5 separate regions of the Homo sapiens genome follow, and regions 2, 3, 4 and 5 are each linked to region 1. Evidence: fine-mapped expression QTL. A gene starts in region 1. Each other region holds a variant in brackets. All regions are shown on one strand. Distances are between the middles of the regions. Region 1 holds the start of HMGB3 (high mobility group box 3). Region 2 has its middle 24 kb from the start of HMGB3. Region 3 overlaps CD99L2 (CD99 molecule like 2). Region 4 holds the start of LINC02927 (long intergenic non-protein coding RNA 2927). Region 5 overlaps CD99L2 (CD99 molecule like 2).

The links. PIP is the estimated chance that this variant, and not a neighbour inherited with it, causes the effect.
Region 2: its variant is fine-mapped to the expression of HMGB3 in spleen (GTEx, PIP above 0.99).
Region 3: its variant is fine-mapped to the expression of HMGB3 in nasal epithelium (TOPMed, PIP above 0.99).
Region 4: its variant is fine-mapped to the expression of HMGB3 in tibial nerve (GTEx, PIP above 0.99).
Region 5: its variant is fine-mapped to the expression of HMGB3 in whole blood (TOPMed, PIP above 0.99). The same link has a PIP of 0.9 or more in T cells, blood mononuclear cells and monocytes.

What each region holds. Positions count from the first base shown.
Region 1 is chrX:150,981,217-150,986,216 of GRCh38, forward strand. HMGB3 (high mobility group box 3) reads left to right here and starts at 2,119. Exons shown (of 5, transcript NM_005342.4): 1 at 2,119-2,160; 2 at 4,379-4,533; 3 at 4,835-4,974. The coding sequence starts at 4,384. RefSeq lists an enhancer at 1,133-1,828 and a silencer at 1,950-2,149.
Region 2 is chrX:150,955,785-150,962,266 of GRCh38, forward strand. No RefSeq gene overlaps it. Among named protein-coding and RNA genes, the nearest start is that of HMGB3, 24 kb to the right of the region's middle. The variant G/C (reference allele first, on the strand shown) is at 2,495.
Region 3 is chrX:150,846,453-150,852,934 of GRCh38, forward strand. All of the region lies in intron 1 of CD99L2 (CD99 molecule like 2), which reads right to left. Among named protein-coding and RNA genes, the nearest start is that of CD99L2, 49 kb to the right of the region's middle. The variant C/T (reference allele first, on the strand shown) is at 2,625.
Region 4 is chrX:150,917,175-150,923,656 of GRCh38, forward strand. LINC02927 (long intergenic non-protein coding RNA 2927) reads left to right here and starts at 28. Exons shown (of 3, transcript NR_186570.1): 1 at 28-109; 2 at 2,595-2,762; 3 at 3,612-3,764. The variant A/G (reference allele first, on the strand shown) is at 3,139.
Region 5 is chrX:150,765,305-150,771,786 of GRCh38, forward strand. CD99L2 (CD99 molecule like 2) reads right to left here. Exons shown (of 11, transcript NM_031462.4): 10 at 5,000-5,065; 11 at 1,032-3,797. The coding sequence ends at 3,730. Among named protein-coding and RNA genes, the nearest start is that of MTMR1, 75 kb to the left of the region's middle. RefSeq lists a silencer at 2,384-2,493. The variant C/G (reference allele first, on the strand shown) is at 2,971.

The sequences.
Region 1 (5,000 bases):
GGATTACCCTGTGTGGAGATGTTGACCTTAAGGCTCAGAGGTGGCTGGAGATGGAAGGAACTGCCATGAAGGAAGATGGTAAGCTCCCTATGAGTGGAGGTATGCAAGCAGAAGGCAGGCAACCACTAAGCTGGTTCTAACAGGACAGAGGGATGGATGAGGTGGCCTTAAGATCTCTGAACTCCTGAGTCTGTAGTGGGGACCTGGGTTAGTGACACAATACCTGCCTGCTCTTGTCAAAAGCAGCACTATCTCTGCCTTTTTTTTTTTTTTTTCGGAGTCTTGCTCTGTTGCCCAGGCTGGAGTGCAGTAGCATGATCTTGGCTCACTGCAACCTCCACCTCCCAGGTTAAAGCGATTCTCCTGCCTCAGCCTCCTACAGGCATGCATCACCACACCTGGCTAATTTTTTTGTATTTTTAGTAGAGACGGGGCTTCATCAGATTGGCCAGGCTGGTCTTGAACTCCTGATCTCGTGATCCGCCTGCCTCAGCCTCCCAAAGTACTGGAATTACAGGCATGAGCCACCGCGCTTGGCCTCTATCTTTGCCTTTTGATCTGGATTGGAACCTTGATGATGGGAGCCAACAGCACCAGCTTCAGGGGCTCAGGCTTGGCTGGGAGGCTCAGAGGAGTTGGTAAGAGGGGGCGTAGGGGTGAAGAAGCAGGTGCCCTGTGAAGCCAGATCCTTTGCACACCTCAAACTCAGCCACGGTTTCTGGAAGCAGCATTTGGAAAATTCATGTTCTGGTGGGGCTTATTTCTGAATATAGGACTCATAAATAGCTGGATCTCTTGGCCTTTCAAAGAAAAGAAAAACCAAACTCATGACATCTCTTCCTTTGCATTATTTTCTCCAACTGTCAATCTTTAAACTGCTCTTTTTCTCACCCTTTCATTCTTTCCAGGCAAGGGCCCTCAGATACTTTCTTTCCAAATAGGGCTGATACTTGCATTTGAAGTGGAGTATTTCTTCCTTGCGTGGGACTGTCCTATGCAATGTAGGATATTTAGTATCCCCGGCCGTTCCTTCCTCTTATTGAATTCCAGCAACACCTGCCAGTCATCCAGGCACCGGCCCCACGAATTTCAGAACATCCCTTACAGAAGTGACACTGCGGCTCCTATACTTTGAAAAACATTGCCTGAATCCCCAAAGAAGTGACTAGCTCAAGGCCATACCACCAGCCAATGGCAAAGTGGAGATCAAGTCAAATCCCATTCATTCATTCATTCACTCATTCATTCCCGAAGCTTTAATTCTTTGCTCTAGGGTGTGTCAGGAGAGCAGAGGGAATGAGGGCCTTGAACCGAGACAGTGAAGAGGGTAAGAAGAAAAGTGTTATTCTTTGCCCACAAAACTACAATTTCTCACAAATTCTCTGCTCTTGCCAAATTTTGTTTTCCTCTTTTAGCCCGTCGGTTCCGCAATTTCGGGCGCAAATAAAGACCTTCTGGCATTTAGTGGAAAGAGCCTAGTTGAGCACGATCCGCAGAAGCGGAATCAGGTGGCTTTCGGATAGGCAGCGAGATCCGAGGACTAAATCCCGAGGTCTTGGCGAGCAAGCAGCTGCCCTCCGCCAGGCATCGAGGAGCGAGCTGCCGCCGCGTTTCTGTCGCGGCGCCGCGGCCGAACCGGGTAGAGGTGGTCTACCATCGGCCCTTCGTGGTGGGCCCAGGGGTGTTTCCCCGGGCAGGGGAGCTGACTGCAGGCCAGGGGCGCCAAGGCCGCGGTGCGGTGGGAGCAGAGGGCAGCGCAGCGGGGCTGGACTTCATCTTCCCACGCCAGAGGCCGAGGCCTCCGGGAATCGCAGGGCCACCTCTTCAAAGCCCTTGGCGATCCCAGTTCTGTTCCCCGAGGGGGCTGGCGAGGTGGGCGGGGCGGGCAGGCGAGACTAGGTCTTTCCCTGTTTGGCCTCCGTAGCCGGCGCCGGCGGGTCGTTCTGTTTGAATGAATGATCCCAGCAGCCGCGCCCAATGGGCGTCCACGCCTGCTTAATATGCATGAGGCCCGCAGCCAATGGCCAGGCGAGGAGGCTGTTTTAAACGGCAGAGCCCGCTGGCCAATCAGGCGGCTCTCGTGGAGGCAGCTAGCGCGAGGCTGGGGAGCGCTGAGCCGCGCGTCGTGCCCTGCGCTGCCCAGACTAGCGAACAATACAGGTACGTCTCGCACCGCCCGCTCCCGCCGCCGCCGCCGCCGCCGCCGCCGCCGCCGCCGCCGCCGCCGCCGCCGCCGCAGCGCCCGCACAACTTTCCGGCCCGCGCCGCCGTGAGCGCGCCCTGCCGCCGCCTCCCCCTGCCTCTACTCCCCATTCCCTTCCCGCCCCCTCCGCCTTCCCTCCTGCTAGGCGGCCGGGAAGGAAGAAGCAATTCAGGTGTTTCAACTTTTCCAACGCGTTCCCCGAGCTCCCCGCTTTCGGGGGTCGGCCCCCTCGGCGGACGCCCGCCCGTGGCGGCCCCAGGGGCCGCAGCCGGGAACCCAGGGCCCCCGAGGCCAGATGTTTGGGCAGCTGCGGCTGCGGCGGCTGGGCGAGCAGAGGGGCGGCTGCGGGCTGTGGGCGCTGGGCGGCGGCAGCGGGAAGGGGGCCGGGAGTTCCCCGGCCCGCGACGGACTCCGCTGGGGAACGGGCGGCCGGTGCCCGCCGGGGGCTGCGCGGCTGGTGCCCGCCGGGGGCCGCCGCACGGGCAAACTTCGCTCCCGGGCTTGGCCCGGCGCCGCGCGGGCCCGCAGGCTACGCCGCTGGCTCTGCGTTAACATGGCCGTCGCGGAGCGCCCGGTGGCCCGGGGGGGCGCGGGCCGGCCGCCCCCCTCTCGCCTCCCGCCCGCCCGGCGCCGCCGCCGCCGCTAACATGGCTGGCGCGGCGCTGGCCTCCGGCGAGGGCAGGGGAGGCGGGCGGAGCGGTCGGCGGGGCGCCCGGCGGGCTCCGGCCTCGGCCCCGGCGCCCGCGGCCCGGGGCGGGCGGCTCGGAGGGCCGGGGGCGCCGCTGCGGGCCCTGGAGCGGCCGAGCGTCATGGCTGCACGGGCGCCTTTGTTATCCCGAGGAGTGCGCCCCGCGCCGGGGGGCGGGGAGGTCCGGCCCGGGCCCCCGAGCCCCCGGGCGGCCCGGGCGGGGCGGGGCGGGGCGGGGTGGGGGCCGACGGGCGGGCGGCGGCGGCGGGGCCCGGGCCGCTTTGTTCGCCGCTGTCGCCGCCGCCCGCGCCGGCCGCGCGCGGATCAGCCATTTTAGCGAGTGGGACTCCGAGGCGCGGCGGACGCCGCCACCAGTGCCGCGGCTGCCGCCGGCCCGGCCGCACACCCCCCGCGCACCGCCACCGCCGCCGCCCCCGGCCCCGCGCGTCCCCCGGGGATGACAGCGGCGGATTTCAGGGGCACTTTCTTTCATCAGGAGGCTTTTGACAAAATGGAAGGTGAATTACGGGTGTCCCGGTGACCCGGCACGGGGGCCGAGGCGGGCTGCCTGCTGCCGGCCGGGACTCCCCCGCTCCCGGTCCCGCCCCGCCCGGGCCGCCGCTGCGGGTCTCTGTTGGGCAGCCTCCTGGGCGGCTGCTGCCAAGGGGAGCTCTTTAGTTTTACATGATGACCTTGGGTGTGGGAAAAGGAAAAGATGGCGGGAAGCTGGGGGGTGGGACAGGGACGATGACATGCCGCAGCTGCATTTTTATTTGGAAACTTTGGAGAAAGTGTTCTCGGCTGGACCTGCATTCTGGGTTACAGATGAGCACGACTAGCCCTTTTTATACACCCTCCCCCTTTAGATAGTGACGAAGTGATGAATTGAACTAATAGTACGGGGGTACCTGCTCACTTTCCAGATCTCCCGTGTTGTAAAGCCGTTTTTTTAGTAAGCCAAAACACATCAACAATAGTGACAATTTCAGATGTCCCCTACGTATAGTTCTCCTGCTTTGGTCTTGTGTTCAGCAGTGGTAAGAGTTGTTGTTTTTAATTGTGTTAACAGTTAGCAGATGACCAGATAGTCTTAAGTCATAGATTTCAAGCTTCTATCACCCCCACCAAATGTGTCCTCTCTCTACCCTTCCCACTTTGTGATTGTAGTTTCCAAAACATAGCAGTTCTGTAAACGTAACACTGAGTACCCTACTTGGGTCGGCTCCATTTGGAGCACTTGATCGCTTTTGAGAAGTAACTCGCAAACCAGCGCGCTTCGTGCTGGTCAAAAGTTAAATGACAAGCGACAATGAAGCTGATTTCTTTCCTACTCTGCCTTCTGCCACTGGTGTCCGGCATTGGGGGAAGGGGACTTCCTAACAGCAAGTGTAGTTTTAGTTTTGCTCTGCCTTTGGTACGTCTTGTACTTCTTGTCAATTCCTCCTTGCTTTTCCTCATTGTATTTCTTTGTTTCTCTTTTATCACAGTCAGGATGGCTAAAGGTGACCCCAAGAAACCAAAGGGCAAGATGTCCGCTTATGCCTTCTTTGTGCAGACATGCAGAGAAGAACATAAGAAGAAAAACCCAGAGGTCCCTGTCAATTTTGCGGAATTTTCCAAGAAGTGCTCTGAGAGGTGGAAGGTATTTTTCTTTGGTACCCTTCAAACTAGTCTTAGTTGGGTTTCTTACTTTGGGGTTACTTACCTTCAGATTTTCTCCCAGATAGCTGCTTGCTTCCTCTTTTACTTTTACTTAGAATCATTTTTGCTTGTCTTAAGAATTTTGTGTGTGTGCTTTTATTTTTTTAAGGCCCTGCACAGGTTTCAGGCCTTTACCTACCCCCTTTTGCAAGTGGTTCTAGCAACTGCTAGTTTAATCACAAGAAACTGAATAGGTATGTGTTCACTGCATCGAGGGATTTAACGAGTCCTGTTCTTTGCAGACGATGTCCGGGAAAGAGAAATCTAAATTTGATGAAATGGCAAAGGCAGATAAAGTGCGCTATGATCGGGAAATGAAGGATTATGGACCAGCTAAGGGAGGCAAGAAGAAGAAGGATCCTAATGCTCCCAAAAGGCCACCGTAAGTGACTATAGGATTCAAGATAA
Region 2 (6,482 bases), 25 kb before region 1:
GCATAGGCAATTCTTAGGAGAAGAAACTGAAAAGGCTGGCAAGTAAGTATGTGAAGAGATGCTGGGATCCCAGATTCATTAGTAATCGGAGAAATGGAAATGACAACAATGACATAGGATACACACATGTCAGATTGGCAAAAATCAGCTGTATGATGCCAAGTGTTGGCTAGAATAAGCAGAAGGAGGAACCATTGTGTGCCGCTGCTGGGAGTCCTGCTAGATGGATGCAGGCGCTTTGGAGAGCCACCTAGTAGCATTTAGCCAAATCTTGTCTGTGCCCACACTGTCCCAGTAAGCCCATTCTTGGGTATAACCTCAAGAAATTCTCCTGCAGGCCCACAAAGGGACTGAGTATCTTGTGGCTGCTGTAACAAAATATCACAAACTCAATGGCTCAAAACAACAGAAATGTATTCTCTGATACTTCTGGAGTCAAGAGGTCCAAAATCAGTATCCTTTGGCCGAACCCCAGATGTCAGCAGGGCTATGCTCTCTCAGGAGGTTCTGGGGGGTCTCCACTCCTTGCTTCTTCCAGCTTCTGGTGGCTGCCAGCCTTCCCTGGTCTGCGGCTGCATCGCTTTGATGTTCAAGGCCAGCATCTTCGAATCTCTCCGCTCCCTCTTCACTCTGCCTTCTCTGTGTGAGTGTCAAATCTACCTCTGCTTCTCTTTTATAAGGATATAAGAGTAGTGGGCTGAATAATGTCCCCCCAAATTCACATTCACTTAGAACCTCAGAAAGTGACCTTATTTGGAAATAGGGTCTTTGAAGATGTAATTTGTTAAGATGAGGTCATACTGGAGTAGGAGGGGCCCTTAATCCAATTTCTGCTGTCCTTATAAGAGGACAAAAGGACAGAGAGACAGGGAAGACCATGTGAAGACGAGGCAGAGGTTGGAGTGATGCTGCCACAAACCAAGGAACACCTGAGTCCACTAGAATCCGGAAGAGGCAAGGAGGGGATTCGGAGGCACTGTGGCCCTCCTGACACCTTGATTTCAGACTTCTGGCCTCCAGAACAGTGAGAGAGTAGATTTCTATTGTCTTAAGCCACCAAATTTGTGGTACAGTACTTTGTTACAGCAACCACAGAAAACCAATACAACATGTGACTTCCTTTCCAGCCCACCCTGATAACCCAGGATAATCTCCCCATCTCAAAATCCTCAACACGATCACATCCGCAAAGACCCTTTTTCCATATAAGGCAACATTCACAGACTCCAAGCATTAGGACCTGATACCTTTGGGGTCCATCTTGAGCCTGCTATAGGGACCCATGCAAGGATGTTTATTGTACAGAGCCTGTGCTAGGACAGAATTGGAGGCAATCCAGGTGTCCACCACTGGGGAAAAATAGAAGCAAATGAGTGGTTACAAGCAACTCAGGAACACACAGCAGCATGGACAGTTAACACACACAGGGCTCAGTGGAAAAGCACCCAGTAAGAGACTGAACACACTCTCCAGGCCACTACCACTTATGTTTACTGAAAACACACACACACACACACACACACACACACACACACACACCCCTCTACACAGTTTGACAGAGCACACACTTGAGTGGTTGCCACTGAGGGGAGGAGCATTAGAGTGGAAAACAGTAATTAAAAAGACTGGAGAGATGGATAGATTGATTCAGCCAGAGAAGAATCTCACAGACCAATGATGGTGAGATCATGAATTGAGAAGCAACATTACCTGAAAGCCAAACAAACAAACAAACAAACAAACAAATGGAAAGAAAAAGTCTGTGAGAGGTCCTTTCTGGGGAAAGCTGGCCACCTCTGCAAGTGCCTGGTGTGTTTTGCATAAAGACACATGGTCCCCCAGCCTGGGCAACACAGCAGGTAACAACTTGTCTCTACAAAAAAAAAAAAAAAAAATTAATTATCTGGGCATAGACCGGGCGTGGTGGCTCACACCTGTAATCCCAGCACTTTGGGAGGGTGACGCAGGTGGATCACCTGAGGTCAGGAGTTCGAGACCAGCCTGGTCAAGATCGCGAAACCTCATTTCTACTCAAAATTAGCTGGGCGTGGTGGAGCGCGACTATAGTCCCAGCTACTCCAGAGGCTGAGACAGGAGAATTGCTTGAACCTGGGAGGCGGAGGTTGCAGTGAGCAGAGATCGTGCCATTGCACTCCAGCCTAGGCGACAGAGCAAGACTCCGTCTCGGGGAAAAAAAAAAAAAAAATCCGGGCATGGCAATACATGCCTGAAGTCCCAGCTACCCAGGAGGCTGAGGTGGGAGGATCTCTTGAACCTGGGAGGTCGAGGCTACAGTGAGCCATGATGGTGCCACTGCACTCCAGTGTGGGCGACAGAGCCACGCCTGTCTCAAAAAATAAATAAACAAATATAAATAAATAAATAATAAATAAATTAAAAAGACACATTGTTCCTTCAGTTGGAGCAGCAGTGGGTGGCAGCTAGGGACCTTCATCCTTCCCTACTGTTTGGGGAGGGTGGAACCATGTGGCCT[G/C]CAGAATGGAGAGAGGACATCCTCCCTAGCAACACCAAGGAACAAAGGAAGCCACACTAATGCCATTTGCTGTTGCCTGCCAGTTGTGTTCCATCTGCTGCACTGAGTGTTCCCTCCCAGCAGCCTTGAGCAGCCAGCTGGCATTGTTGGCTCATCCACTGGTCTTAGTTAGGCTTCCCATTATTTGATTCATTCTTGGAACACACCCTGGCCTTCCTCTTTCCGGATGCAATACTTCTCTCAGTGCCACTTGGTCAAGTAGCAGGGATGAGGCCAGTGGCCCTGGAAATAGGCATCTAAACGGTCGCGAATTCGGAATCAGCTTGGTAAACGGTCAGTCATTTTTAACCCCTGGAGAGGGTTTGGATCTTGTTTGTTTAATGCCCCATTGGGTTCCTCATAGTTCCTTGTAAAGTTCCCTTTGAAAATGCCGTCCTACCATGTACGGTGGCTCACGTCTGTAATTCCAGCACTTTGGGAGGCCAAGGCGGGAGGATTATTTGAGGTCAGGAGTTCAAGACCAGCCTGGCCAACATAGTGAAACCCCATCTCCACTAAAAATACAAAAATTAGCCAGGCATGGTGGCACACGCCTGTAATCCCAGCTACCCGGAAGGCTGAGGCACGAGAATGGTTTGAACCCGGGAGGTGGAGGTTGCAGTGAGCCGAGATCACGCCACTGCACTCCAGCCTGGGCGACAGAGTGAGACTCCATCAAAAAAAGAAAGGAAGGAAGGAAGGAAGGAAGGAAGGAAGGAAGGAAGGAAGGAGAAAATGCCATCCTATCTTGACTATGCTTGGGAAGGAAAGAGAACCTGACTTTTAATGTCTTGTCTGTTAGTACCAAGGCCAGAGGGAAAAGGGGAGTAATATTTTATTATAACCTTTTCTTTATCCTCCACAAAGGCCTTTTAGCAGAACTGACCTTAAATGTTTTAAAATCTAACAACAACAAGAAAAATGTGATGTGGCATTCACCTGTGCTCTTATCTGGGCTCTTCTTGATCCACTTAGGGATTCATATTTCCGGGTTCACCGACAGCTGGTTAACTTTGCTATTCATTCCTGCCCACCTCCTCACACCCACTGTTGCAGTCATACCCACGAGACTCAATTTGCAAATACAGGTGAGGAATCAGGCAGTAATTTTTCATCTCCGAAGATGCCTTAACAGCCTGCTCCAGGTCTGTGCTCTTCATGAGCAAATACTTCATTTGAGCCTCGCCATATTTGACACAGCTGGCAGTCCCTGTTCAAAACTGGAACTAGTGCTAAAAACAAAATTCATATAGAGACAGCAACGTATTCTTAGTTGTTTGCTTGGGAGACAGGGATTTGGCCAAACCAGGCAAGGGAAGATGAGAGAGCAGGCAGGAGTAACTTGCCTTGTTTTCCTCCCCATAAGTGTTCCTTGCTGCCTGCTAAGGGAGGCCTTCAGCCAATCACTCAGCCCCTAGAGGCTCAAGTTATTCATCTGTACAATGAGGTTGAAACTAGACAAGTGTTTTCACACTCTGTTGGTGGAAGGTCCTGGGAGGTGCTTCAGGAGCCACCATTGAGGGGATTTAGCAGGTGGGGATCTGGACCTCCTTTTTCAATCATCACTCCTCTGTTTGCATCTGTTGTTTCTATAGGCAATGATTTCATTTGAAAAGTAATTGATTTCGGTGCTAAGAAAATCATTAGAGACTGAGCATGGTGGTTCATGCCTGTAATCCCAACACTTTGGGAGGCCGAGGAGGATTGCTTGAGCCCAGGAGTTTGAGACCAGCCTGGGTAGCATACTGGGACCCTGTCTTTACTAAAAACAAAACAAAATTAGCTGGGCACGGTGGTGCCCAACTGTGGTCCCAGCTACTTGGGAGGCTGAGGTGGGAGGATTGCTTCAGCCTGGGAGGTCGAGGCTGCAGTGAGCCATGATTGCATCACTGTACTTCAGCCTGGGCAACAGAGGGAGAGCCTGTCTCAAAAACAAACAAACAAACAAACAAAGGAAAAAGCCCATACCTTGGACTAGATGAACTCTAAGGACTCTGTGTTAGTTTCCTGGGCTGCCATAACAAAGTACTACAAACTAGGGGGCTTTGAACAACAGGAATATTTAGCCTTTCACGGTTCTGGAGGCCGGAAGTCTAAAATCAGTATCTCTGGGTTGAAACCAAGGTGCTGGCAGGGCCCTGTTTCCTCTGGAAGCTCAAAGGGAGAATCCATTCCTTGTCTCTTCCAGCTTCTGGCAACTTCCTGCATTTCTTGGCTTAAGGATGCATCACTCTGATCTTTAAGACCAGCATCTTCAAATCTGTCTCTGCTCCAGCTTCACATCACCTTCTCATCTGTGCATCAAATCTTTCTCTGCCTCCCTCATAAGGATATACGTGGTTGCATGTAGGACCTACCCAGATAATCCAGAATAGTGTCCCCATCTCAAAATCCTAAACATGATCACATGTACATAAACCTCATTTTATTTATTTATTTATTTTTGCCATTTAAATTAACATTATTGTGGGTAATAAGAGAGAGAGGAAACAAAACAAGTAAGTTAACACTTACAGGTTTTGGTGATTAGAATGTGGATCTCTACTGGGGGACCAGTTTGTAGCCTACCACAGGCCCTTTCAAAAATCAGGTTCTAAGATCCCCTTTCCCCCAAATAATTCCTATCTCAGTAGCTTTCTATACATTCTTATGTCTTAAAGAACCTAAAAGAAGACCGGGTACGGTAGCTCACGCTTATAATCCCAGCACTTTGGGAGGTCAAGGTGGGTGGATCATGAGGTCAGGAGTTCAAGACCAGCCTGGCCAACATGGTGAAACCCCTGTCTCCACTAAAAACAAAAAAATTAGCTGGGCGTGGTGGCAGGTGCTGGTAATCCCAGGTACTCGGGAGGCTGAGGCAGAGAATTGCTCAAACCTGGGAGGCGGAGGTCGCAGTGAGCCGAGATCACACCACTGCACTCCAGCCTGGACAACAGAGTGAGACTCTGTCTAAAAACAAACAAACAAACAAAAAAACCAAAAAACAAACAAACAAACAAAAAACTAAAAAACAAAACCGAAAAGTACAGCATTACTTTTTATTTAACTCAGGAATAGGGAACCCAAACTTGACTCCTTCATCATGAAAGACTGTAGATTTGAGAGCTGTGCCTGAGCTGAGATGTTTTTATTTCTGCTAAAGTGTAGTGGAGGCTGGGCACAGCAGTTCATCCCTGTAATCCCAGCACTTTGGGTGACTGAGGCGAACAGATCACTTGAGGCCAGAAGTTTGAGACCAGCCTGGCCAACATGGCAAAAACCTGTCTCTACTAAAAATACAAAAGTTAGCCGGGCATGGTGGTACGCACCTGTAATCCCAGCTACTTGGGAAGCTGAGGCACGAGAATTGCTTGAACCTAGGTGGAGGTTGCAGTGAGCGGAGATCGCACCACCACACTCCACTCTGGGCAACAGAGCGAGACCCTGTCTCAACAACAACAACAACAACAAGTCTAGTGAAAATCATGAGTTGGTTTTCGTTTCGCTTTGGTTGGCTTTGCTGCCAGAAGATAGCGTGCACCATGCATAACCACAGGGCAATATAAAGAGAAACACCAAATGCTGGCCCCAGGGCACAAGTTAGGACCACAGGTTTTGGTACCTGCTTCCCAGCTTAAGCTCTTTCCTTTTCCCTGTGACCTGGCAACATCCTGTCCACCCCCTGATAGTGGGGATGACATATGTGAGGACTCCCAGATCCTCAGAATTACCTCACAGGTACCTGTACCTTCTAGGATCTATTTGAAAAATGTTTTGTTGCATAGGTTTTTTTCTCCCTTTATACTGTATTTTTTCTGGTCATAAAAGTAATTCCTGATTCGTATCAAATAGTATAAAGAAGTAGAATTTTTTAAGATACTCTACCTCCAAAAAAAAAAAAAAAAAGAAAAGAAAGAAAAAAGAAATAGAATAAAAGATCACCTGTTGGGCCAGGCGCAGTGGCTCATGC
Region 3 (6,482 bases), 130 kb before region 1:
TTTCCTCATCTATAAAATGGAGATAACAAGAGACCCTACTGCAGTGAGTTAATGTGAGGATTAAATAATCATTATATATAAAGCATTTAGCACAATATGTGACATAGGAATCCCTCAAATGTTAGCTAATATTATTATTAAATTTGGTATTAAGTAGAATCCACTAGTAAGTAGAAGGCCTTCAATAAATATGCATGAGTAAATGGCTTATAAGAGAATCATTAAAATGTTCAAAAGCTTAATGGATGAAGAGAGAAAAAAGCCACACTCTAATCTAAACTCACCCAGTGCTTGATAAGCCTTTAGATTCTACTGATACGACATAAGTTTGGGAAACTGAGGCACAAGAATGTAAGTGATTTGGACAAGGCCACCCCAAATCAGTCTGTTGACTAATAACAAATGCACATGGTATTTCCTTCCCCTGAAGGCAGCATAAACACCAATGGATCCTGTGTACTTTCTTAAGTCAGGTAAGAATCTATGTCTAGTTGGTGTTGCATGTATGAACATTTCCAAATCAGAGCCAGGCAGAGTGGAACAGGACCTCAGAAATCATCAAGATTTTCAGCCTTGCCATCTGGCCAGGCCAATGCAGAGGGAGAAAGGCGCTGAGCACGAGGCACCTCCTACCCTGTATCCCCAACCCAGACCTTTGTCCTCAATTCCAATCCTGCAGGTCCTGCTACCCAGGGGAGATTTCCATAGCACCTCCAAGGAAGCATGTCCTGAATTGGACTCTGTCTTCCCTTGTGCTAGTAATCCTGGTCCAGCTATCCTTGTGCTAGTAATACCCAGTCTTAACTACTGTTGTGTTGTAGTAAGTTTTGAAATGGGGAAGTGTGAGTCTACCAACTTTGTGCCTGTTTTTCAAGCTTGTTTGGCTATTTTGGGTCCCTTGGATTTCTGTATGAATTTTAGGATCAGCTTGTCAATTTCTGCAAAAAGACAGCTGGGATTCTGATAGGGATTGTGTTGAATCTGTAGTTCAATTTGGGAAGTATCATTCCATCTATTTTTAAACATGCTCAAATCTCTCCCATTTTAACTAGAAAACCCTCTTTTGACTGTACATCCCCATCTTGATACTGCTTTCTCTCCCACCCCTTCATAACCAAACTCATAAAATGACTATCTATCCTTGCTGTATCTGCTTGCTCCCTCTCAAATCACTCCTCAGTATCTCACAGCCAGCTCCCACTCAGAATCCACAAAACTAAATGCCAAGCCCTGGCTCTCCAACCTAGACCCTTTTCCTGAGTTCCCTGTTTGTTTCACTGAATGGCACAGCCACCCACTGCATTGTCCAAGCCAGAAAGCTGTACACTGTCCCGACATCTTCTCCTTCATTCTCCATAGCCACCCTGTCACCAAGAACTGTCAATTCCACCCCCAGCACATGCACAAAGCCCACCACTTTTCCACTGCCACTACCAAGCCAGGCAGCGATCATCTTTCCCCTGGACAGCCACAAGCACCATCCTCCTGCTCCTTCCAGGTCTATGCTCCATCCAATCCATTCTCCACACAGCAGGCAGGGAGTCCTCCTTTTTCCTTTTTAAACAAACTTCAAGGCACATCACTTCCCTGCTCAAAACTCCCAAAGGCCTCCTCACTACACTGAATATAAGCTCCATATGCCTAACTATGGCCTGCAGGCCCCCCCCCCCTTGTACTATACCTCTCACAGTATTACATAAATTATATTATTTGTTTTCAAATAATGTGTGTCCACTGTGAAAATCTTAGAAAATGCAGAAAAGAAGAAATAAAATAACGGCAAGTGGTTAACAATATGGGTGAACCTTGAAAACATTATGCTAAGTGTAATAAGTCAATCACAAGAAGGCAAATACTATATTCCCATTTTATGAGGTCCCTAGAGTAGTCAAATTCACAGAGATAGATGGTAGAATGATGACTGCCAGGGGCTGGGGAGAGTGGGAGATGGGAAATTGCTTAATGATTAGAGGTTCAGTTTTGCAAGATAAAAAAGTTATGGAGATTGGTTGTACAACAATGTGAACACCCTTAACACCACTAACAATACACTTAGAAATCATCTAAGATGGTAAGTATTATGTGGGTTCTTTTTCCACAATTTAAAAAAAAAAAAAAAAACAGCAAGTGATGCTTTTTAAAAATCAAAATTCAGAAAGACAAAGCCAATTATCTCAAGGCATGTTAACTTTGGACAGAATCTGAAATATCATCTAATTGACCATCCCTAAAATGCAGCAAAGTAATCTCCAGTGTATAATAGAGGTTCTCAGCCAGGGAGGATGAGCTGACCAACCTCAGAAACCTCCTCCCCCTCAGAATTCACTGGGCTGGGGACCCAGGCATGTGCTTTGGAAGTACATTCATTCGTTGGAAGAGTCACGTTTTTGGAAAGTTTTTTGTGTTGACCCCAAAACTGGCCAGTAGATTACCCTGGCACTACAAAGAATAAGTTTGTCCCCTGCTGTCGTATGCTCCTTTAGACATGTGGATCCCGTGCTAAGGGTCACTGGCTACCCGCACCAGGAGATCCTGTCTCCCCACCACAACCTCCACTTCAACCACTTCCTCCCTTTGACTTGTGCAACTTTTCTCCATGAACTTGTCCATGTGCGTCATACTGC[C/T]GGGAAACAGCTTGCTCAAATTCCCTTCCCAAATATACCTAATGGCAGACTGTGGCCTCTATCAACAATCACACTCAAATTCAACACCTGTGTACACAGTTAGGCGATGAAGCCCCAACAGCCGTTGGCACTTCTGTGGTGCTTTGTAAACACTGACTAAGCAATCTGGTGAGCAGCGTCAAAAACAGAATGAGGCCAGGCACGGTGGCTCATGACTGTAATCTCAGCACATTGGGAGGCCAAGGCAGGATGATTGCTTGAGCCCAGGAGTTTGAGACCAGCCTGAGCAACATAGTGAGACCCTGTCCCTATAAAATTTTTAAAAAATTAAAAATTAGCTGGGTATGGTAGTACATGCCTGTAGTCCCAGCTACTTGGGAGGCTGAGGCAGGAGGATTACTTGAGCCAGCCAGGGTGACAGGGTGAGACTCCATCTCTACAAAAAGTTTTTTAAAATTAGCCAAGTGTGGTGGCATACACCTGTAGTCCCAGCTACTCAGCAGGCTGAGGTGGGAGGATTGCTTGAGCCCAGGAGGTTGAGGCTGCAGTGAGCCATGACCGCACCACTGCGCTCCAGCCTGGGAGACAGAGGTAGACTCTGTCTCAAATTGAAACTATACAAAACAAAACACAGAATGAGCTAGCCCTTGTATATCAGTACATCCTGCTCCATAACCTTCTGAAGCCAGCTTGTCATGGAAGCAGGCAATCAGTCTGGCTCATTCCACACCACAAATCTTCCAAGTGAGTAAGAACCCACTGATTCCTGCATCTGTAGAAAATGGGAGATAGGATGTATGACAACTTCAAGGAACATTACTAGGCCCACATCTGCTTGATCTGGCCAACTAAATCCCTAAGCCAGTTCTATATAATATAAATTAAATAAGCATTTAATACTACGCAAAATAAAATTACAGCTATTCAGCTGACCTTTCCCCTTTTCCACTCTGTATTTGTGCCTGTTTACAAGCCCAGTGGGGAAGGTATGCCAAGAATAGAGATGTTCTGAGGACACAACAAGCCAATTAAAACAACAAAACAAAACAAAAAACTAGAAATGACAAATATCCTGCAAGTCTAGATTGTTGAACATGCCTGATCAGGTTGGAGAGGGAAGCAGGAGGAGCCCAAAGAAAGTCTCCTGTATGTCCTAAAGTGGAATCTAGCTTGCCTACTTTCTAAGCCACATTCCAGCCCACATGTGTCCCTTAAGACATGAACCAAGCCAGGCTTGGCAGCAGGCACCTCACCATTAAGGCCAGCTCAGCAGTGGCCATGCTCACCACTCAGAGCCCAGCAACTTAGTAGACCACGTTTATCCCCCAGTTTCACAGAACACATGCCCCTGACAGGGATCCCAAATTTCCCATCCCTACCTAGAACATGTAGGCACCAGCGGACGTGCACATAGAAACAAATATTACACCAGAGGGCTACCCATGTTGCAACAAAGTGATTCTCACAGAGATAAATGTTGCAACAAAGTGATAGAAACACAGTACAACAAAGTGATACTCCATAGAAACAAATGTTGCAACAAAGGATGATCTTATTTGTGTGAAGGACTAATATTTCCTATTCCATTTTATCTCATTCAATATGCTAGTTGCAACTCAACTACTTGCACAGGCCACTGATGGGTTGAGCCCCAGGTGCAACAACATTGTACAGATGCTGCCTAAGAAGTGAGGTGTTTCTTGTATCACAGCCAATCCAGGACTGAAGAAACTCTCTAACCAGGAGTACTTTTTTTTCTTTCTTTTTTTTTTGTTTTTTGAGATGAAGTCTCGCTCTGTCACCCAGACAGAAGTGCAGTGGCACGATCTCAGCTCACCGCAACCTCTGCCTCCCGGGTTCAAGTGATTCTCCTGCCTCAGCCTCCCAAGAAGCTGGGATTACAGGCACGTGCCACGGCACGCGGCTAATTTTTTGTATTTTTAGTAGAGACAGGGTTTCACCATGTTGGCCAGGCTAGTCTTGAACTCCTGACCTCAGGTAATCTGCCTGCCTCGGCCTCCCAAAGTGCTAGGATTATAGGTGTGAGCCACCGCACCCAGCCTACCATGAGTATTTTCTAACCAAATGTGAAAGCCCTCCCCTCCAAGTCAAGACATCTGAATCCTTCACTTGATTCTGTGCCTTCGAACTTGGGCAAATTGCTCCCATCTTCTTCCTCCCTTTTCCCATTCTGTAGAAGGAAGGGATGGGATTAGATAATATAGGACAACATCCACTTATTGAGGACCTAGCAAGGAGCAGCTGCCATGTCAGACACATGGCATCAACACTTCAGTGGTTTGTGAGCTGGCATGGTGCCGATGAGCAGCCTCTTTCACCAATGAGGAGCTGAGGCTCAGATAGATGCAGCAGCACGGGGTCATGCAGCTGGACAGGTCTGATTCCCCCACACATGCCTGCCCCTAAGGTGCTCTAAAAGTAAAGTGCTATGATGAGACAGCTGTATTTTCTATTGGTGCTATAACAAATTCCCACATAGTGGCTCAAAACAGGACAATTTTATGACCTTGCAGTTCCAGAGATCAGAAGTCTAAAATGGGTGGCCCTGGGTTAAAACCGGGGCACCAGCAGGCTGTGTTCCTTCTGAAGCTTCCAATCCATTTCCTTGCCTTTGCCAGCTTCTGGAGGTCACCTGCATTCCTTACTTAGCTCATGGCTCTTTCTCCATTTTCAAAGTATATCACTCCAAACCCTGCTTCTATAATCACATCTACCTCCCTCTTTGACATATCAGGCCCCCTTTGATCACATTGGGCCCACTTGGATAATCCAGGACAATTTCCCATCTTAAGATCCATAACTTAGCCCTATTTGAAAGTCCCGTTTGCCATGTAACGTCACATATTCACAGGTCCCAGAGATTAGGATGTGGACCTCTGAGCAGGGAGGGAACATTAGTCTACTGACCACAACAGCCAATAACCATCATCTGTTTTACTGTTTCAAGCATTTAAATTGTTCACTACTGCTTGGATGAAAGAACTCTTCTCCACATCATTACTCCAGAGTGAAAATCCACTTTATGCTGGGTAGTTAAGGAAGGTGTGCCAGGGTGGTGAACTTACACTAAAAGGGGCCAACTCTGGAGTTGCAGAAGTGCATTTGGCCAAAACAACATTTTTAGAAGTTCGCTCTGTTGTGTGGAGACTTGTTTGTAGGAGGCCAGTTGGGGAGCTGTGGTTGTTTTCCAAACCTGTAAGGACAATGGCTGAGCACAGGATGACAGCTCCCCATCACACCCTGGACCTCTGGACTTCACTTGGTTGCTAAACTTCAGCAGGCTCTATCCCACCTCAGGGCCCTCAGGGGTCCCTCTGCCCGGAAGACTCCTCCCATCTCTTCCCTTCACTAAATTCTGCTTGGGCACCTCAGACTCCTTTTTGAACAGCTTTGTTGAAAGTGTGAAATTCAGTGATTTCTAGTATATTCACAATGTTGTGTAACCATCACCTATCATTTTCCACATTTCCATCACCCCAAAGGGAAAACCCGGACTCATTAAACAGTCCATCCTCCTCATCATCCCTCCCCCAGCCCCCAGCAACCACTAATCTCCTTTCTGTCTCTATAGATTTGCCTGCTCTGGTCACCTCAGATGAATGGAATCATCCAGTACATGCTCTTTCATGACTGGCTTCTTTCACTCAGCATGTCTTCAAGCTTCATCCATGTTGGAGCATAGATCCGAATTTCCTTCCTTCTTATGGCTGAAAAAAGTCCACTGAATGAGTAGACTATATTTTGTTCATCCATTCATCAGTTGATGGTCATTTGGGGTTTTCTTTCACTTTTTGCTATAATTATAAGTAGTGCTCTGTGAACATGTACAGCCGGGTT
Region 4 (6,482 bases), 63 kb before region 1:
TCGACATGTGATGTCCTTTGCCACCTCAGTACTCTGCAGAATCCCCGCCGGCAAGAAGTCCCTGACCAGATGCAGCCCCTCAACCTTGGACGTTTCAGCCTCCACAACTGTAAGAAATAAATTCCTTTTCCTTATAAATTACCCAGTTTGGGGTATTCTGTTATAAACAACAGAAAACGGGCTAAGAGAGTTAGAGATGCTTCCTGAATCACAACAGAAAGTTCTGTACATCTTTTATCCCTATACCCTCTGAGGAGCTTATTCTGCTCTAGACGGACAGAGGTGATATCCCACTCATCTCCTGGTCAGCTCACAGTGCCTGGATGCATGTCATGTTCTGGGTACCAGTAGCCTCTCTGAGAGACATTAACAGGCTGGATTTGCTTCAGGAGCCAGTGATCAGGATGTTAAAGGGAAGTTAGAATTTTCTTTTCTTTTCTTTTCTTTCTTTTTCTTTTTTTTTTTTTTTTTGAGATAGAGTCTCTCTCTGTCACCCAGGCCGGACTGCAGTGGTGTGATCTTGGCTCACTGCAACCTCTGCCACCCAGGTTCAAGCGATTTTCCTGCCTCAGCCTCCCGAGTAACTGGGACTACAGGCATGCACCACCACGTCCAGTTAATTTTTGCGTTTTTAGTAGAGATGTGGTTTCATCATGTTGGCCAGGCTGGTCTTGAACTCCTGACCTCTAGCAATCTGCCCGCCTTGGCCTCCCAAAGTGCTAGGATTACAGGTGTGAGCCACTGCACCTGACCTATGGAAGTCGGAATTTTCATACAATGAATAATCTTGGTGAGTGTTTGGACCGGAGAAAAAGATGACTGTAAGGGGTAAAAAGGAAAGGAGTGATGAGGGAGACTCCTGGAGGGAGCTCCTGGGGAATTTGATCTGTATTCTGTGGCCTCAGCTTATGAAAATAAGGATAAAGGGGAAAAGCTACAGGGTGATGGACTCTGGAACTTTCTTGTTTTAAAAGAGACAGAGTCTCACCCTGTCACCCAGGCTGGAGTGTAGTGGTATGATCATAGCTCACTGTAGACACAAACTTTCGGACTCAGGTAATCCTCCTGCCTTAGCCCCCCAAGTAGCTAGAACGATAGATACATGCCACCCCACCCAGCTAATTTTTTTAATTTTTATTTTTGTAGAGATGAGTCTTACTATGTTGCCCAGGCTGGTCTCTAACTGCTGGCCTCAAGTGATCCTCCCCGCCTTGGCCTTCCAAAGTGCTGGGATTAGAGGCATGAGCCACCATGCCTGCCTGGCTGGATTCGGGAACTTCCTAAGGGGCAGAACAACCTCAAGATGGAGGAGCTGCCTCTGTAGGAAGGGAGTTCCCATTCTTCAAGATATCCAGCCTAGTCTCCCTTTGAGGTCCTTTTCAACCTAGAGGCCCCATGACTCTCCTCCCGCATGAGGGTTGAGCCAGGATAATATGGAAAGTCTGGGTTCCAAAACTGCTAGAGAAAAGCAAAAAGAGGTTTGGCAGGTCCTTTGGTTAGCCCCACATTTGAGACACACCTCTGAGGCTCTGCCACGTCCCACCCATGGCTGAACGGAATCATACACAGATTTTTCTGCCCACCTTTCCACACTCACCCTGTGATCCAGAGCTCAGAGAGTGAGACTGAGAGAGCTCATGCCAGGAGCTTTTAGTTGTCAAGAAAAGGAGTCATCGTGTCTTTAGAAACAGGATGAATGCGGAAAGCATACACACTGAAACGATTTCTAAGATTCTATATAGATCAAGGCCAGGGTCTAGCTGCTGAATTGGGGCCTAGCCTATCCTTTCCAGACAACACAATTCTAAAGTGCATTTCTCTCTTTTTTTTTAAAATTTATTATTATTATACTTTAAGTTTTAGGGTACATGTGTAAAGTGCATTTCTCAACACACCCCTTCATCTCTTGAAAATGAAATGCTGCCGGCCGCGGTGGCTCACGCCTGTAATGCCAGCACTTTGGGAGGCTGAGGTGGGCGGATCACGAGGTCAGGAGTTCGAGACCAGTCTGACGAACACAGGGAAACCCCTTCTCTGCTAAAAATACAAAACAAAATTAGCCGGGTTTGGTGGCGGGCACCTGTAATTCCAGCTACTCAAGAGGCTGAGGCAAGAGAATCACTTGAACCCAGGAGGCGGAGGTTGCAGTGAGCTGAGATAGCGCCACTGTACTCAAGCCTGGGCAATAGAGCGAGACTCTGTCTCAAAGAAAAAAAAAAAGAAAAGAAACAAGAAAAAGAAAATGAAATGTAATCCATGTCCTTGCAGGTTCTTCATCAGATCTGCATTGAGAGCTACATGAGAGGCTTTCCAAGCACAGCACAATAGAGCAGGGGCCTCCCTCAGTGTAATCTGCTTCAGCCCCCATGTTTAAAGAGGAAGGGACTGAGGCCCAGAAATGGGGAACAACTTGTCCAAGGTCACACAGGAAGGCAGTGGCAACATAAACCAGGCCTTGTGCCTTCACATGGGCTCAGTGCCATTGCAGCATTGCAGGCAGTGTGACTTACCCTGCTGTGGCTTTTCAGTGGCCCCCTGGGGGCCACACCTGCCACCCTGTTCTCCCTGCTAAAAGGTCTTTTCCTTTGTACCAGGTACTTCTGTCAAGTCCAAATCAAGCAGAATGGGTTCCAACCAGCAGCAGGGTTTTCACTTGTAAGCAAACCACAGAAGGGATCAGCCACCAACCCAACAGATGAACAACTTGACTTGCTTTCCAATGGAGCCCAGCATTTGAAGCTGTGATAATTGTCAGTTTAAATGTTAGTAAGTGAATGCTTGTAATTTACAAGTGAAGCTGCTTCTCTTATCAAGGGTCCCATTTCCTGTGGGCTGTTTGGAAGTATAAACTGTTATCAGAGGATTTGTGCTTATTTGAGGCTTGGCTTGCCCATCTGGTCAGAGAGAGAAAGTCTGGAGAGTATGCTGAGTCTAATTCTGCTGTACCCCATGACGAGCCTGTCCTGTTCAACATTCCACTTGCGGTCCATGAATCAAGCGCTATTCATGGGCACAGAACAGAATGAACCAACCTAAACCATTTCGCTTGCTTGACATTCTCTAAATCCCACTCCCCCCTTTAAACGCACAAGCTCAGGGCCTGTTTCAAAGGGCAAATATTGTGAAAATGAAGAAATT[A/G]TTACAGATTATACTTGGAAAGAGTTCAAATGTTGTTGAAATACCGTGATCTGTAGGTGGCATGTCTTCAAAGAGATTCATTTGAATAGATCAGGCTGAGGAACAGTCAATAGCAAAATAGTTATTTGTGTATCAAGTATGGACAAATTCTCACATACCAGGAGGCTGCGAGACAGCACTTTCACAAGCTGATTTTAGATTTTGGCCCAACAGCTCTAAAGGCAAAGGCTTTCTAGGCTAAAGGGATGATTAGAAAGATAATAGACAAAGTCAACTCCAGATGTACCAGTTGACCACCCCTCTGCCAACTGAAACCCTACTCTTGGGTTGATTTCACAGCTCAGGAGGGGAGCTCAAACTCAAACTTGTCAATTTTGTGACTCAATAACAGACCCACTTTGGGGTGGGAGAAAAATGGAAGTATGAGCTAAAAAGGAGATTCTTTCAATTGCCTTTGCCCTTCTGTTTTCTAGGCTGTCTATGTCCTCCAACAGCTCAGAGACTCAGAGTTGATGCGCTGGATTCTACTGCAAGTTGCGTCTTGATAAACATAGTTACTATGTGAGCCAGCAAATTCCATTTCTAGATATATACCCAAGAGAAATAAAAACTCATGTTCACAGGAATGCTTGTACACAAATGATCATAGCAGCATCATTCATAATAGCCAAAGTGGGAGCAAACCAAATGTCCATCAAGCAATGGATGGATAAACAAAATGTGATCCAGTCATACAATGGAATATTATTCAGCCATTAAAAGAAATGAAATACTGATCTGTGCTCAAACATGGATGGACCTTGAAAACATTAGGCTAAATGGAAAATGCCAGACACAGAAGATAGGACACATAATCAGACACATGTTGTATGATTCCATTTATATGAAATGTACAGAATGGGCAAATCCACAGAGACAGAAAGCAGATGAATGGTTTCCAGGGGCTGGGGGGAGAGGGATGAAGAATGACTCCTTAATGGGTGCAGGGTTTCTTGTAGGGTGAAGAAAATATTCTAAAATTGATTTTATAATGGTGATTGCCCAACTCTGTGAATGTACTAGAAACCACAGGTAGTACATTTTAAAATGGTTAAGTGGTAAATGTCTTTTTTAAACATTTTATTATCACTATATATATCATAAAAGTTATTATTTTGACCACTATTAAGTATGCAATTCATTGACATTAAGTACATTTACAATATTGTGCAACTGTCACCACCATCCATCTCCAGAACTTTCTCATCATCCTAAACTGCAACTCCATACCCATTAAATACTTGCTATTACTCCCTCCCTTCCCCCAGCCCCTGGAGATTTGTTTTGTTTTGTTTTGTTTTGAGATGGCATCTCAGTCTGTCACCCAGGTTGGAGTGCAGCAGTGCAACCTCAGCTCACTGCAACCTCTGCCTCCAGGGTTCAAGCAATTCTCCTGCCTCAGCCTCCCGAGTAGCTGGGATTACAGGTATGCGCCATCACACCCAGCTAATTTTTGTATTTTTAGTAGAGATGGGTTTTTGCCATGTTGGCCAGGCTGGTCTCGAACTCCTGACCTCAGGCAAGCTGCCCGCCTTGGCCTCCCAAAAAAAAAAAGTGCTGGGATTACAGGCGTGAGTCACCGCCCCCAGACCCCACTGGAGATTTCTAATCTATTTGCTCTCAATGATTTTGACTATTCTAGGTACTTTATATAAGTGGAATCAAACAATATTTGGCCTTTTGTGTCCGGTTTATTTCACTTAGCATAATGTTTTCAAAGTTCATTTGTCGGCCAAGTGTGGTGGGTCACGCCTGTAACCCCAGCACTTTAGGAGGCTGAGGCAAGTGGATCACTTGAGCTCAGGAGTTTGAGACCAGACTGGGCAATATGGCGAAATCTCATCTCTACAAAAACAAACAAATGGACAAAAAATTACCCGGATATGATGGCATGCACCTGTAGTCCCACCTACTTGGGAGGCTGAGATGGGGGGATTGCTTCAACCTGGGACGTCAAGGCTACAGTGAGCAGAGATGGCACCACTGTACTCCAGCATGGGTGACAGAGCAAGACCCTGTCTTTTTTTTTCTTTTTTTAAGAGGGAGTCTCACTCTGTTGCCAGGCTGAAGTGCAGTGGCATGATCTCGGCTCACTGCAACCTCCGCCTCCCGGGTTCAAGCGATTCTCCTGCCTCAGCCTCCCGAGTAGCTGTGACTACAAGTGCACACCACCACACCCAGCTAATTTTTGTATTTTTAGTAGAGATGGGGTTTCACCATGTTGGCCAGGATGCTCTCGATCTCTTGACTTCGAGACCTGCCCGCCTCAGCCTCCCACCGTGCTGGGATTACAGGCGTGAGCCACCACACCTGACTCCAAGACCCTGTCTTAAAAACAAAATAAAATAAAAACAAAAACAAAAAACAAAGTTCATTCATGTTGTAGAATGGATTAAAATGTTAAATTTTATATTATGTGAGTTTTATCTCAATTTTAAAATGATTGGCTGGGCACAATGGCTCACGCCTGTAATCACAGCACTTTGAGAGGCTGAGGTGGGCAGATTGCTTAAGCTCAGGAGTTCAAGGCCAGCCTGGGCAACATAGTTAGACCTCATCTCTACAACAACAACAACAAAATACAAAAATTAGCCAGGCATGGTGGTGCCACCGTACTCCAGCCTGGGTGACAGAGACCCAGTCTCAAAAAAAAAAAAATATACACACACACACACACACACACACACACACACACACATATATGCACATACACGTCTATATACATACATATATATATATATATATATATATATATATATATATATATATATATATATATATATATATTGCATCCAGGCTGGGGCTTATGCCTGTAATCCCGGAACTTTGAGAGGTCCAAGCAAGAGGATCACTTGAGCTCAGGAGTTCAACACCAGCCTGGGCAACGTAGCAAGACCCTACCTCTACAAAAAATTAGCTGGGCAGGGTGACACACACCTATAGTCCTAGCTACTCGGGAGACTGAGGGTGGAGGATTGCTTAAGCCTGGGAGGTAGAAGCTGCAGTGAGTAATGATGGCACCACTGCACTCCAGCCTTGGCAACAAAGCAAGACCTTGTCTCAAAAATACATATATATACTGCACCCTGATGTGAGGTTTCCCTGTGTGTTAGGAACAGACACCTCTTAAATAAGCTTGGTGTCAGGGCATAGGGCCCAAACAACTCCCACGGCCCCCTTGGGCTGTATGTAGCCATACATACATGAATTCCTTCGTGAATGCATTTGAAACCTCTGTGCAGTTGCTGGGGTCACAGATGCATACACCACCCAGTCCCAACCCTGAGGGAATGGCATAGGTCAGG
Region 5 (6,482 bases), 220 kb before region 1:
GCAAGTGCAGTGCTCTCTAAGGCCTCAGACTGCCCCCACCCCAAAGGAAGGGGCGTTCACCTTTTCAGGGCCACGAAGGCCTGGATGAAATCACACCACCCCCTGTGCCCTCTGTGTGTTGTCGGTCTTCTTGTTAAGGGTGTGGGGTCCCTGTCCCTCTCCACACACGTTACTACTGAGTGAGCCAGAGAGCCCGGTATTCACTGGGCACAGAGGATGCCCAGGGGACTGCTTGCCAGCCAGCCTTCCCCAGCAGTGAGACCATAGCAGCTAGCCATGCAGAACTCCTGCACGAGACAGGCATATGGTGGTCTCGGGTTTGAGAGGACCTGATGCTATTATTTCACTAGAAGCCGAGGTTGGCAAAACAAAATGAAAAAACAAACAACCGACCTCCATGTTAAAACCCAGGGTCCACTGCATCTTGTTTGTTTTCATGCTGAAATGCCCTGAACTGAACTGTCGTCTTCTCAATTTGAAGCCAACATGCGAGCTGATGAGAAGGACATACTTCATCCCAAACGGGCCACTCTCCATGAGGCTGCAACAAGTGACGAGGTGCAGGGCTCCTTTCTCACCCAGCTTTCTGGTTGAAAAACAACTGCGCGTTAACTGGAACCTCCACTGGTTACCAGCCTGCTTGGAAGGCGGCAGAGCAGTCGACTTGGGATTTGTGAGCCTGGGACTTTTTGCTGCTTCCAGGCCCCGGACTGCGCAACCCATGTAGCCCGGGAGCGGCCCCGCAGCACTCTGCTCCTGCCTCTGCCCTCTCTAACCCCAGGACATTGGTCGCTCCACATCCCCTGGCCTTAGCTGCTTGTACGGTGAGGAGTCACCCTTGGAAGTCCTGACACTGAGCCAGTCACTGAGGGGTAAATGCAAGAATTCTAAGCTTCTCGAGAAATACCTTCAGCTGGGGGCGGGGCGGGGGGAGGGGGAGGAGGGCAGCTCTGCATCATAAATTACTTACTTTAGGGAAAAGTGGCAACACTTGACCAAGGGCGTGCCTTAACACCATCAGAAGACAAGAATCTGCTCGGTGCCATTTTATTTAATGCAAACACTAGACAGTTTACAAGTCACACCTGGACACAAGCACGTGAACAGATGTACAGGGAATTCTGGAATTTTGAGATCAGTCCCCATTTCTTCCTCAGGGCCCTGGCACTGAACCCCAGCCCCTGTCCCAGAGCCTCCCCTCTGGGTCCCACCCCAGAAGCCACGCACACCTCCTTCCGCCCAGCTTTATCTTTCCTTGAGCTGTGACTTCACCCAGCATGTGCTCAGAGTTGTTACAAATTTTCTCTGCCAAATTAAGCTGATAGAGATTGGCCACTTTCAACCAGTCCTTTCAGTCCACTGTGTCTCCCCTCTCGCTTGGGACAGGCCCATGCTGGCCAGTGCAACCTTCAGATAGACACATGGTGACCAGAGCCCGCCAGGCTTCTGCAGGTGGCAGTGTCGAGCAAGTGTAAGATGTCTGTGGGAAGGAGAAGCTCCTGAAATGAACGTTCTGCAAACAGAAGGCTGAGGGGTCTTCCAGGCATGTCCAGTCACTAGGAGCTGCCACCGGTGGGCTTGAGTGCCAGGCTCTAGGCTTTGTGCAGAAAGCACCCGGGGCGGGGGGCGGTAAGGGAGAGCAAAATGGGTCTCTCTCAACTGCAGTCAGTGCTCCTGGGAACACGGTCTCACAGACAGCACATATTCTACGTCACAGCTCTAGGGTTTCAAGGACTTAGCCATCCGACAGGCCTCACCATAAAGGTAAAGTGGACAACCCCTGAGGTCACGCTGTCCAGGTGGCGACAGGCCACGCATGCCAAAATCCTCCATAGCCACCTCCGGCCCAGCACCAGCCAGAGGGTGGGGCCATCGGTTCTCGACATACTTGGTATCAGGGAGGGACAAGCCTGACAAAGTTCACAATCTGGCCAATGAGTGTGGGAGGCCCTGGAAACAGGCCAATCCTGCAAGCCACCCCACCCTTACTAACTTCCTGAAGCATGGGAAGCTTCTCGAGACCAGGCCAAGGTTTCTTTCCTTCATGGCACCACGCAGAGGCATTTCTGCAGTGCTGCAGGTCCCCCTTCAGCCACACAGTCCAGGTCTGTCAGGGATTAAAGGGCCGAGCAGGAAAAGGGGTGGTAAGGAGCTCAAGGGCACGCACTGGGAATGGCCTCACAAGGCAGCCTTGAGACGCACAGGGCTACAACTGACCACCCTCCACCACAGGCATGTTTGCAAAACGAACACGAGGCATGCGTTAGACAGATGCATGTGGGGGCTGCAGATTCCAGTGGTTTCCTTAAGAAACTGGAGTTGGCTCATCCCACTCAGCAGACAATCCCGCTCAGTGGACAGCCTATGAAACGCATGGGGCCATCATGCAGACCAAAGAGGCCCGTGAGTTTTGTAAGATCCTGCCTGTCTGGTGACTCATATCTGCTTTCAGAAGTGCTTTCTGACACAGCAAACTGACTATCAGTAGACAGGGGCCCTAGACCCTAGCATGTGGTTCTGTCCCGTGAGCCTCTGACAACAGAGCTCACCGGGACAGAACCATATGTGGGCCAAAGGAACATTCCAGGAAACCAGCTCTGCTCCAGCCCAAACCAGGCAGCTCCACGCCAGGTGAGGGGCGAGTCATGGGGTTCCTGTGTTTGCCACGGTGAGCATGGCTCCCCACGCACTCTCCCTCAGAGCAGACAAGTAGGCTGACCACAGAGCTACAAAGTCACCTGCGTTTCACTAAACCAAGCGAATGTCTCTTTCCCCTCTCCTCCCCCGCCGCCCCCAATTACATTTTTAAGCAAACAAGCAGGATTCTGGCTTTGATGCTCGTTCTTGACATCGGTCACTCTTGCTACCAAAACAGGGACACAGGGTGGAGGGTGAGCACCTCTCCCCAACACAGGATAAAACTCATCTCCGGTGCAGAAATGATTGCTAAAGACCTTTCTCATGTCAACC[C/G]GAAGGCCACACCCAGCCCCCTATGGAATCAGATGGGAAACAGGCCTACGAATTGCTTCATACTTATCCGGAAGATTCCTAAGCTCTCAAGGCAGGACTATCACGAGATGCATGTTTGTACTTAAATCACTGAAAGCCTCCGCTTGGACCGGCTCTCCGGAAGCCCAGCAACATAAAACCTGGGATGGGGAAGACTGAAGTGAAACCATCATCCTGGGTGCTGCGTGTGTGTGGTGTTACTTGGTGCTGACCGGTTCGCTCCTTGCAGGGGCTCCAAGTGGGTGCAGGCTGAGCCCCCCACCTGCAGCTCCTTGAGGCCACTGTCAGGGGCTGTCTATTGGCAGAAACCTGCCACAATGAGCCACTCCAGTGTGCAGGGGTCACAGTCCCTTGAGTTCAAACTCTTGTCCCCTAAGCATAAATGTCATCAGGCCTCAGCATCATCTTGGCCCCCGCATCCTGTGCTCAGTAAAGCTGGAGGCAGGCTGGCTTTGGGAGTTGGTGGCTCAGCAGCTCCCGAGGCTGGTGCTGGCTTTCTATCAGAGCTGGCTCTTGAATTTCGGCACCAAGTCTCAGCACGCTTGGGGCAGGGCAGAGAAACCAAACTCACAAACACCCAGAGCTCATCCGGGAAACTCAGACCAACAAGGAGCCGATGGCACAGAGCAGCACAGCAGCTGCGGGTCCAAATGAAGGGGTGGGGGGAGCCGGGTGACAAGCGGTGGCACCATTGTGCATGCCTGCAGCTGGACAGGGCCCTCAGATCCGGGCTGGTTCGGGCGGCGGCGGCGGCTCTGCAGACTGCGTGTGCAACGTGGAGTATTTCACTAGGGGAAAAAGAGGCCGTCAGAAGGAATTCTGCTCTGTCTTGCACAGAAGAAGCAAATACAGCAGCAAGCCCGTGCTGGGAACAGAACTGGGTTTCCCTTTGTATCCCCTGGGGGGCCGCTTAGCAACCTTCCCTCCTGAGCCTGGGAGCAGTTTTGGGCCGGTCAAGGGGAGAGAAAGAGAAAGCTGGACAGGCTCTGGAAACAGCTCAGCCTCCATCTCCTCACCTAAAAAATGAGCGTGTTCCTGCCAGCGCTGCTGGAAGGGTTATTTTAAACAAAGGGCTCAACCTAGCACCTGCCCACACAGATGCTGGCCTCGTGGTGGCTAACCGTGGCAAAGCTCATGACAGTGGATGCGACAGCGGAATCCATTTTTCCACATCTGAACCCAGGCCTATTTTAGTTCATTTGGTGCAGCACTGCCACCCGTCTTCAGCAGCATTGTAGGGCACCTGGCTCCCAGTACACACCACACAGGCTGAGCCCCTCCTGGTCTCCCAGGCCCAGTCCCCACGGCTGCTGCACTGTAGTTCCACTGGCAACACTCGCCTGAGCTGTCCTAGTCTCCCTGCCTGCGCCACCAGGCCTCGGCTGCTCCCCGACCCCAGCAAGCCTTTCCGGACCTCCTCATTGGCATCCCGTGGGCACAGGTCATATCTGCCTCGAGCAGTTGGGCACTCTAGGCCTGTGGCCTGAACTTATGCGACCTCAAATTGCCAACAGCTCCTGAATCCAGAAAGTGCTTGATGACCACAGAAGGGGGAGGGAGGGGCACAGGTGTTGACAATAGGGTCTGGGTTTTACCCAAGTTCCCTCTTGCCTGTGGCAATTTGCAAAGGGAAAAGTTCTAGGTCTAGGTGAAAAGCTTCCCCATGGCTCTGTTCAGGATGTAATTGTATTCGCTGATGGGGAGCAGAGGTGCCTGGGGCTCTGGCTCGGACGGACGAATCAAGGGCAGGGGCCGAGCAGCCGCAATGCCCAGAAGTCACAGGCATGGCAGCAGATGGCCCTGGCTGTCACCCCAGCATCTTTGGGCTCCTGAAACTGGGAGGCAGGCTCATCAGGGCAGGCTTTTGCTCTGGCCGGACATTCTAGAAGCAGACGCCTCTGTGCTTCCCTGCTTCTCTAGCACAGTTCTGCTCAGTGCTGGGACCAACTAGGAAAGCGTCAGCAAGGGACAGTGAGTACAAAGTTCTCACCTTGGGGTTCCTCACATACCACGGCTTCCAGGTTCTCTCCCTTCACGTAGTCTGCGTTGAGACCCTCTGCAAAGGGAAAAGGGCAGAGTTAGTGATGCGCACAGGACCTAAGGGTCCCCAATCGTGACTGAGAACTCCTGACCAAGTCCTCTGCAGCTAAAAAAGCAGCACAGCTCCCCTGGGGAACTCAAAACCCTGCACCCTGAGCCACCTGAACATCCTTATCCGGATGAAGACTGTTCGTCCCAGAATTCACTGCCCAGGAGTTCTCATCATCGTCCTCAGAAATAACAACGACATGCAGCGAAGGCTTCCGGCACTCCATCCTCATAGGGCAGCTGCCACCGCGTCAAGACGGCAGCTCCGCCCAGTGGAGGGGGCGCCCGATGGCAGGGCTCAGCACCATCCACAGGTCCGTGTGCGTGTGCGGCCCGGGGGCCAGGGAGCCAATCGCTATGAGTGATTGATGGATGCAGGGCAGGGAGGGGCGGATGGCTGAGTGGGGCTCAGCATGTAGATGCAGCAAAGCCTCCTGCCAACATGCAGCCTCCCAGCAACACCCGCGCGGAGGCCAACTGCTCCTCCCAGCAGCAGGAATAACCGCTGTGTCCACCTGAGCTTGGAGGGGCCAGCCCACCAGCAGCTGCTTCAGTCTAGTTAGTTATCTAGGCTTTCTCTACACCTGTTACAAGAGGGATTCGGGGACTGTACCAAGCATTCCCTCCCGCCAGCAAGGGCCAGTGTTCAAGTTCTTAGAGTGGACCCCACCCCTGCTGCTGCTTGCAGAGAGTCAAGAGTCTGTGTCTCATCCCTGCGTAGCACAGGGACTGGAACCCTTCAGCCCCGGGTCTGTGGGAAAACTGGGGCATGGTTCCAACCGACCGACCGACCGACCAGGCACCAGTGCAAGTCAAGCCATCGTCCTGGGCTACAGGCTCCTTGCCTAAACAAGAATGCCCACCACCTGCCTGCCCCGGTGGCTGCTGGGCTTGAGGTGGGAGCCAAATGGGCCTGTGGCAAATGCGGGCGTTGCTCTTTGGCAGGTGTGGCCGGCCCCACGCAGAGCGGGGCAGGTGATGAGTGCAGTGGAAGCTGCCCCAGGTGCACCTTCCCAGCTGACAGGTGGGGGCCAGGAGACACACCCTGAGCCTCGTGATCACTGCTAGCTGCCAACCCAGTGGGCGCTGGATCGTCTCCTTCCTGTGGGTGGCCCTCTATGTGCTCCCCAGGCATGACCACCAGTGGGCACCTGAGTCCTCACCATGGCACCTCAACTCTCCCCCCACCCCTGCCACATCCAGCCTGGGGACAGAGTGTCTGGCAGGTGGCATCCTCTCACACGCATCAGGGTAAGCTAAAGATGGTCCTGGTTACAGCCACGTCGGTGAGTGCCAGGGAAGCAGGAGGGAGAAGAGCGGCAAGGAAGCGCCAGAGCAGGGGGCGAATGAGGAAGCATCAAGGCTGAAGCAAAAGGAAAGTGAGG